2 separate regions of the Homo sapiens genome follow, and region 2 is reported to be linked to region 1. The links are microRNA targets in miRTarBase. Many come from high-throughput screens and were not tested one by one. Region 1 holds a microRNA gene; the other region holds the end of a gene's coding sequence.

Evidence for each region. The annotated mature microRNA hsa-miR-3690 reads ACCUGGACCCAGCGUAGACAAAG and lies in region 1 at 1,770-1,792, opposite strand. An mRNA with a match to its seed (bases 2 to 7 or 8) in the 3' UTR can be bound and repressed. Matches are read on the target gene's strand: a 7mer-m8 pairs with bases 2 to 8, a 7mer-A1 pairs with bases 2 to 7 and ends in A, and an 8mer does both.
Region 2: the mRNA of SDR9C7 is a reported target of hsa-miR-3690. Seed matches in the 3' UTR shown: 7mer-A1 at 968-974.

What each region holds. Positions count from the first base shown.
Region 1 is chrX:1,291,719-1,295,718 of GRCh38, reverse strand. It overlaps MIR3690 (microRNA 3690), which reads right to left and starts at 1,801; the gene lies at 1,727-1,801. CSF2RA (colony stimulating factor 2 receptor subunit alpha) reads right to left here. Exons shown (of 13, transcript NM_172245.4): 8 at 1,258-1,391; 9 at 263-292. LOC124905238 (a long non-coding RNA gene) reads left to right here and starts at 1,721. Exons shown (of 3, transcript XR_007068370.1): 1 at 1,721-1,790; 2 at 1,834-1,876; 3 at 2,137-2,173.
Region 2 is chr12:56,920,413-56,924,412 of GRCh38, reverse strand. It overlaps SDR9C7 (short chain dehydrogenase/reductase family 9C member 7), which reads left to right. Exons shown (of 4, transcript NM_148897.3): 4 at 363-1,280. The coding sequence ends at 580. Among named protein-coding and RNA genes, the nearest start is that of SDR9C7, 12 kb to the left of the region's middle.

The DNA.
Region 1 (4,000 bases):
CCTCCTTACACTAGGTGTGGTGAGTAGGGGACTGTAGGGTTACGCTGGAGGTCGTCAGTAGGGGACTGTAGGGGTCATGAGTAGGGGACTGTAGAGTTACACTAGGTGTGGTGAGTAGGGGACCGTAGGGTTACGCTGGAGGTCGTCGGTAGGGGACTGTAGGGGTCATGAGTAGGGGACTGTAGAGTTACACTAGGTGTGGTGAGTAGGGGACCGTAGGGTTACGCTGAGGGTTGTCAGTAGGGTCTGTGGTTTCACTTACCAGTAGGTTTTCCGTGCCAGGCTGGGTATTCTAGAAACAAAACAAAACACAACACAAGGCTCACTGTTTCCATTTCTAAAACACTGTAGATGGTTCACACAGTGTCTCCCCTGGTGTGGGCACCGAATGGGAAGGAGTCCCTGCGGAGTGGCAGGCAGGTCTCCCTCCACAAACCCCGAATCTACAAGACAGGTAGGATGAGGAGCTGCAAACACAGAAGTCTTCCTGGCCAGATATCTTCCTGTAACCCATCCAGAAAGGTCCCACTGGCCTTGGGGCAGGGTGTTCTCCTGTCGTCCAGGTAGACATGGAGCAGGCTCTCCTTCTTGTCTACACTGGGTCCAGGTGGTTGTGGGACAAGATCTCCTCTTGTCTACACTGGCTCGAGGTGGACATGGGGCAGGGTCTCTTCTTGTCTACACTGGGTCCAGGAGGTTGTGAGACAAGATCTCCTCTTGTCTACACTGGATCGAGGTGGACGTGAGGCAGTCTCTCTCCCTGTCTACACTGGGTCCAGGTAGTTGTGGGACAAGAACTCCTCCTGTCTACACTGGGTCTCCATGGAGGTGGAGCAGGGTCTCCTCCTGTCTACACTGGGTGTAGGTGGAGGTGGGGTCGGGTGTCCTCCTATCTACACTGGGTCCAGGTAGACATGGGGCAGGGTCTCCTTCTGTCTACACTGCGTCCAGCTGGAGGTGGAGCAGAGGCTCTCCTTGCTTGTGGCATCGTCCCCCACACCTCCCGGTCCACTTCCTGGTTCCATGGTTGCAGGATCATCCTTGTCCACCCTCCCTGCAACCTCTTTCAAGGTGGCTCCACAGGCCACAGACCCTTCACCTCTTCCTCCGCTACCCGAAGTGCGTTCACCCCAGAGTCACCGCTCACCACCCACGCATCCTTCCCCCAGGCCACTTCCCCGGGATTCCCAGGCTCCTGTGCGGGCGTGTCCCGTACGCCTCCCTCCTGGTGCCCAGCCCCGGGGAGCTCTCACCGACCTTTCTGTGGACGTCCAGCTGGTACTGAAAGTCCAGGTACGACAGCTTCTGATAGGTCCTGGGCTGTTTCCACCGTACGAGGCAGTGCGTCGTGTTGCAACGTACGGTGACATTGCTGGGAGGGTTGAATCGTTCTGTAACGAGGGCGCAGGACACACCCCTGAACCCGAGAGGTCCTGTCTACACTGGGTCCAGGTGGAGGTGGTGCAGAGTCTCCTCCTGTCTACACTGGGTCCAGGTGGAGGTGGAGTAGGTCCTGTCTACACTGGGTCCAGGTGGAGGTGGAGTAGGGACACCTCTTTGACTACACTGGGTCCAGGTGGAGATGGGGCAGGGTCTCCTCCTGTCTACACTGGGTCCAGGTAGAGGTGGGGCAGGGTCTCCTCCTGTCTACACTCGGTCCAGGTGGAGGTGGTGCAGTCTTCTCCTGTCTACACTGGGTCCAGGTGGAGGTGGGGCAGGGTCTCCTCCCATCTACACTGGGTCCAGGTAGATATGGAGTAGAAACACCTCTTTGTCTACGCTGGGTCCAGGTGGAGATGGGGCAGAGTCTTCTCCTGTCTACACTGGGTCCAGGTGGAGGTGGGGCAGGGTCTCCTCCTGTCTACACTGGGTCCAGGTGGAGGTGGTGCAGAGTCTTCTCCTGTCTACACTGGGTCCAGGTGGAGGTGGGGCAGGGTCTCCTCCTGTCTACACTCGGTCCAGGTGGATGTGGACTAGGGACACCTCTTTGTCTACACTGGGTCCAGGTGGAGATGGGGCAGGGTCTCCTCCCATCTACACTGGGTCCAGGTAGATATGGAGTAGAAACACCTCTTTGTCTACGCTGGGTCCAGGTGGAGGTGGGGCAGGGTCTCCTCCTGTCTACACTGGGTCCAGGTAAATGTGGAGTAGGGACACCTCTTTGTCTACTCTGTGTAGGGAAAAGAAAGAGAGATCAGGGGGCTGGGCGCGGTGGCTCACGCCTGTAATCCCAGCACTTTGGGAGGCCGAGGCGGGAGGATCACGAGGTCAGGAGGTCGAGACCATCCTGGCTAACACGGTGAAACCCCGTCTCTACTAAAAATCCAAAAAAATTAGCCGGGCGTGGTGGCGGGTGCCTGTAGTCCCAGCTACTCGGGAGGCTGAGGCAGGAGAATGGCGTGAACCCGGGAGGCGGAGGTTGCAGTGAGCCGAGATCCCGCCACTGCCCTCCAGCCTGGGTGGGCGACAGAGTGAGACTCTGTCTCAGAAAAACAAACAAACAAACAAAAAGAAAGATCAGACTGTTACTGTGTCTATGTAGAAAGGAAGGTAAGAAACTCCATTGTGATCTGTATGTTGAACCACTGTTTTGCCTTGAGATGCTGTTAAGCTGTAACTGTAGCCCCAACACTGTGCTCACAGAAACATGTGCTGTGTCTTGTTAACAATAGGTTTGCAGGCAGCATGCTTGGTAAAAGTCATCGCCATTCTCCATTCTCTATTAACCAGGGACACCATGCACTGCGGAAAGCCGCAGGGACCTCTGCCCGAGAGAGCCCGGGTATTGTCTGAGGGTTCCCCCCACTGAGACAGTCTGAGATATGGCCTCGTGGGAAGGGAAAAAGACCTGACCGTCCCCCAGCCCGACATCCATAAAGGGTCTGTGCCGAGGAGGAAGTCCTCTCGCGGTTGAGATAAGAGGAAGCCCTCCGTCTCCTGCCTGCCCCTGGGAATGGAATGTCTCCGTGTAAAACCCGATCGTACATTCGTTCTATTCTGAGACAGGAGAAAACCGCCCTGTGGCTGGAGGCGAGATATGCTGGTGGCAATACTGCTCTGTGACTCTTTGCTACACTGATGTTTGTGTGGAGAGAAGCATAAATCTGGCCTGCGTGTGCATCCAGGCATAGTAGCTTCCCTTGAACTTATTTGTGACACAGATTCCTTTGCTCATATGTCTTCCTGCTGACCTTCTCCCCACTATCACCCTGTCCTCCTGCCACATTCCCCTTGCCAAGATAGTGAAAATAGTAAGCAATAAATACTGAGAGAACTCAGAGACCGGTGCAGGTCCTCCGTATGCTGAGCGCCGGTCCCCTGGGCTCACTGTTCTTTCTCTATACTTTGTCTCTGTGTCTTATTTCTTTTCTCAGTCTCTCGTCCCACCTGACGAGAAATACCCACATGTGTGGAAGGGCTGGTCGCCTTCACACTGGGTCCAGGTAGAGGTGGGGCAGGGTCTCCTCCTGTCTACACTGTGTCCACGTAAATGTGGAGTAGGGACACCTCTTTGTCTACACTGGGTCCAGGTGGAGGTGGTGCAGTCTCCTCCTGTCTACACTGGGTCCAGGTGGACGTGGAGTAGGGACACCTCTTTGTCTACACTGGGTCCAGGTGGAGGTGGTGCAGGGTCTCCTGTCTACACTGGGTCCAAGTGGAGGTGGTGCAGTCTCCTCCTGTCTACACTGTGTCCAGGTAAATGTGGAGTAGGGACACCTCTTTGTCTACACTGGGTCCAGGTGGAGGTGGTGCAGGGTCTCCTTCTGTCTACACTGGGTAAAGTGGAGGTGGTACAGGGTCTCCTCCTGTCTACACTGGGTCCAGGTGGACGTGGAGTAGGGACATCTCTTTGACTACACTGGGTCCAGGTGGAGGTGGTGCAGTCTCCTCCTGTCTACACTGGATCCAGGTGGACGTGGAGTAGGGACACCTCTTTGTCTACACTGGGTCCAGGTGGAGGTGGTACAGGGTCTCCTCCTGTCTACACTGGGTCCAAGTG
Region 2 (4,000 bases), not on the chromosome of region 1:
CTGTTTCCCAGGCTGGAGTGCAGTGGTGTGACCTCGGCTTACTGAAACCTCAGCCTCCTGGGTTCAAGTGGTTCCCATACCTCAGCCTCCCGAGTAGCTGGGATTACAGGCATGTGCCACCAAGCCCAGCTGATTTTTATATTTTTAGTAGAGATGGGGTTTCACCATGTTGGCCAGGCTAAGATTATTTATAATAGTCTTATAAATGTGTGTTTGTATAAGGGACCACCTGGAGGGTGTGGCGGACCTGCCTGAAATGTTAGATCAGGGATCTGATGGAAAGGGAACTTGGATGGAATTCGGAAGAAGCCATCTTTTATGAAGAATAACAGAGCCTTTTTCCCCTCTCTGCCCTCAAACAGATACTGACAAGTTAAAAAACATAATGCAGGTGGCAGAGCCCAGAGTCAGAGATGTCATCAACAGCATGGAGCATGCTATTGTTTCCCGGAGCCCTCGCATCCGCTACAACCCTGGCCTGGATGCCAAACTCCTCTACATCCCTCTGGCTAAGTTGCCCACCCCTGTGACAGATTTCATCCTAAGCCGGTACCTTCCAAGGCCAGCGGACAGTGTCTAAACTGGGGAGGATCAATGGGTCAGTGGAGCCTAGAAGTGGGGGAGGAAGGAAGGACCGTGGGGTCACAAAAGGTGGTATCGGTTATCCTGGGGGCATTGGCTGCAAAGGAAGCTTGGCTCAGCTGACACCCACTGCTGTCGAATTTACCAGTAACTTCTAACAGAAGGTGAATGCCTCTTCCCACCCTCTGGGACCCCACAGAAACCTGAGGTGGTCTTTGCAGGTTCAGCGATCTGCAGCAATAGCTCCAAGGACGTCTGTCACCCAATCAGGATACAGCTTTTTCTGGTCCTGGAAAAGTCATGGAGAAGAAAACCAGCTCCTGTGGAATCATGAGCCCCTTTCAGTTATCACTGCCACTGAGAAATACTGTGGGATAATCTTGCCTCCAGGAGAATCTAACCACCTTCCTAATGGGTCCCTCAATATGCATAACTTCATTCACATAACCCATTACTGAAGTATGCGGTAGGGCAGATAGGGAGTGCAAGATTAAATCAGACAAAAGTTTAAAATATTTTCTTTCTTTTTAGATTCTTCTATCTATAGGTTATTGGGATCCACATGAAATAACATTCATTTATTTAATCACCATTAATTTTTCAAATATTTATTGAGTGCCTACTACCTACCGGGCACTTTGTAGGTGCTGGGGGAATATAAAGATGATTAAATCATGGTCTTGGTTTTTTATTGTTTATTTTGTGTTTTGCTTTGCTTTGTTTTAGCACAATATCTAGTAGCTGAGTTAGGACAAACAGCGATAGAAGGAATAGAAATCAGAATACAAATTTTTAGAGCTATGAAGGACCCTGGAGGTCTTCATCCAATACTTCACAAGCTTGGCTGTACCTTGTATCACCCAGTCAATTAAAAAATACAGACTCCTGTGCCAATATTAGAAAATCTGATTCAGTAGGACTGAGATAAGGTCCAGAAATATGTGTTTATAACAAGGACCTATATGATTCTGATGCACCCGAGCAACTTGGAGCCACCAATAATTCCATAGAATAAGTAACTTAACACTCAGAGGGGGAAGTGACCTACCCAAGCCCCCAGTTTAGTAACTAAGACAAGGATAGAAATGAGGCATTCAGACTCCCAGACCAGGATTATTTTTCAGTTATAGGAAAATCAATTTCTCAAATTAGTAACACTGTCAAATAAGTCATTGAACTAATTTTTTTTAAAAAAAGACTTAAACTCCTGGGTCATATGAAGTTCTGTGGAAGAGACTTTTTTTTTTATCTTGATAAATGGTCATGTAATAAAGGTCAAATGTGATTTTTTTAACTAAAATATCTTTAATTTGGGTCTCTTCAACATCTGAAAATAATAAAATATAATCCAGGTACATCTGCAAAGACTCCAAATAAGGTAACACTCACGGGTTCCAGGGGTTAGCTTATAGATATATCTTTAGGGAGCTACTGTGCAACTCACTACAGTTTGTTGTTTGCAGCACTTCTATTCCTGGCACCAAATTCTAAATCAGATAGAATGCATTCAACAAGTAACAGAAAAACCAACTCACACTGGCTTAGACAATGAAGAGTGAGGGCAGGGCCCAGTGGCTGAATGATGGCATTGAGGCTGTAGGCTCTTTCTACTTCTTTGCTCCGCTGCCCACAGTTTTATCTTTACCCTTTGTTGCTGTGGTGTGACTGCCAGGCAAAGGGAACTCTACATTTCCTCATTCACAACTTAGAGAAGAAGAAAGAGCCTGCCTTTCCACAGCATTCAACATTGAAGAAGTTTCTTTCTTAGAGCCCTCATCATGTGTCTCCTTGAATCTCATTGGCCCAAATTGGTTTAGGCTTGTCCACCCCTGGCAAAGAGGTAAATTGCCATGAATTGCTTAGATTAATCACGGGACAGATGGGATGTTGGGAAATCAGTCACAATGTCTACTACCTTGGAAAATGCAAAACTCAGACATTATGCTGTTGAGAGGGTTGAACAAAGGTCAAAAATAAATTTTCTGAAGACACAAAAATTTACTAAGGGGAAACTGGCTAGGTAATATTTTGAGATAATAATTTACACTTTTTCATTCCTCCCTGTTTTTTTTTATTTCCCCTTCTTCCATTCAAATAGATAGCCAATTTGGTACTTCTTTACCTAGGGTGAGATGTTTGATGGGATAAAACACATAAATTTCCTGCACTTTTTCCAGCTTTAGTTTCCCCCAACCCTGATATATTTAGAAAAATTATAGAGTTGTGGGAAAGAAGTAAAACAGAATGTGACTTATGGGTGTACCAAATGACTCAGAGAAAAAGAGACTTTCCCCTATGACAAAGAGATTCACTCTGATGAGATAAGAAGTTGATGTTTGGGGTTCCCAGGACAGGAGGGACCAGGGCCCACTTTCTAGAGCACCTTGGGGGCACACCATGGGGAGGTGACAAGACTCAAGAGAGTCACAGCTACATTGTATGTTTAGGCAGATTCGACTTCAGATGACCTCACAGGAGACTCATGTGTCCCACCATGGCAGGAAGGTAGTAGAAATTTGCTAGATATAAAGGGCATGTAGACTGGAACAGCAGACACTAAAGTGGTAACCTTTAGAAGATAGAAGACTTAATTTTTTGGTCTGAGGGCCATCTCTCCACCTCATCATTAATAGCTGAGGTATTTTTTGAACTTATGAGCTGAGATTCATATATGCTCCAGAGTTACATTTTGGTTGATTTCATATTAGAACCATCACCTTTCTTATATAACTTTTGTATTTTCCTGGAGTTTTGAATTGCCTTTTCTTGTTCATTTATTCAGCTTCTTAATCATTTTTATCTCCATTTTTAAAGTAGGGGAGTAATGTGATCTGATCTATATTTTTAAAAGATCACTGGGGGGCTCTGTGGAGACTGAAATGAAGAAGCAATGGTGGAAGAAAGGAGGCCATTGCATAATCCAGGCAAGAGATGATAGTGCCCTAAGCTGAAATGGTGTTAGCAGAAATGATGCTAATAGATGAAGTCAATATATAATTTGGAGGTAGAACCATTGATGGACTTTAATCATTAGTCAGTCTGTCAAGAAGAATTTATCAGGCTCCTACTATGTGCTAAATGTGGTTCCAGATTCTAGAGTTATAGTGGGGTATAAGACAGAGTCCTTGCCCTCAAAGAGTTTACATTCTAACGGAGGGAGGGGTTGGCCAATAGACATATAAAAAGTGAATGAAATAATTTTATATACTGATAAGTGCCATGGAGAAGAGAAAATATAACAATGTAATAGATGACCAGGGAGGCTGCTTACCTTTTTTTCTAATCAACATTAATGAGGTAAAGTTTGCATAAAAAGAAATGCATCCATCTAAGTGTACCATCTGATGAGTCTTGTCACATGTTTACACCTGTACAACCACCACCAGTCAAAATATAAAACATTTTTCTCATCCTAGAA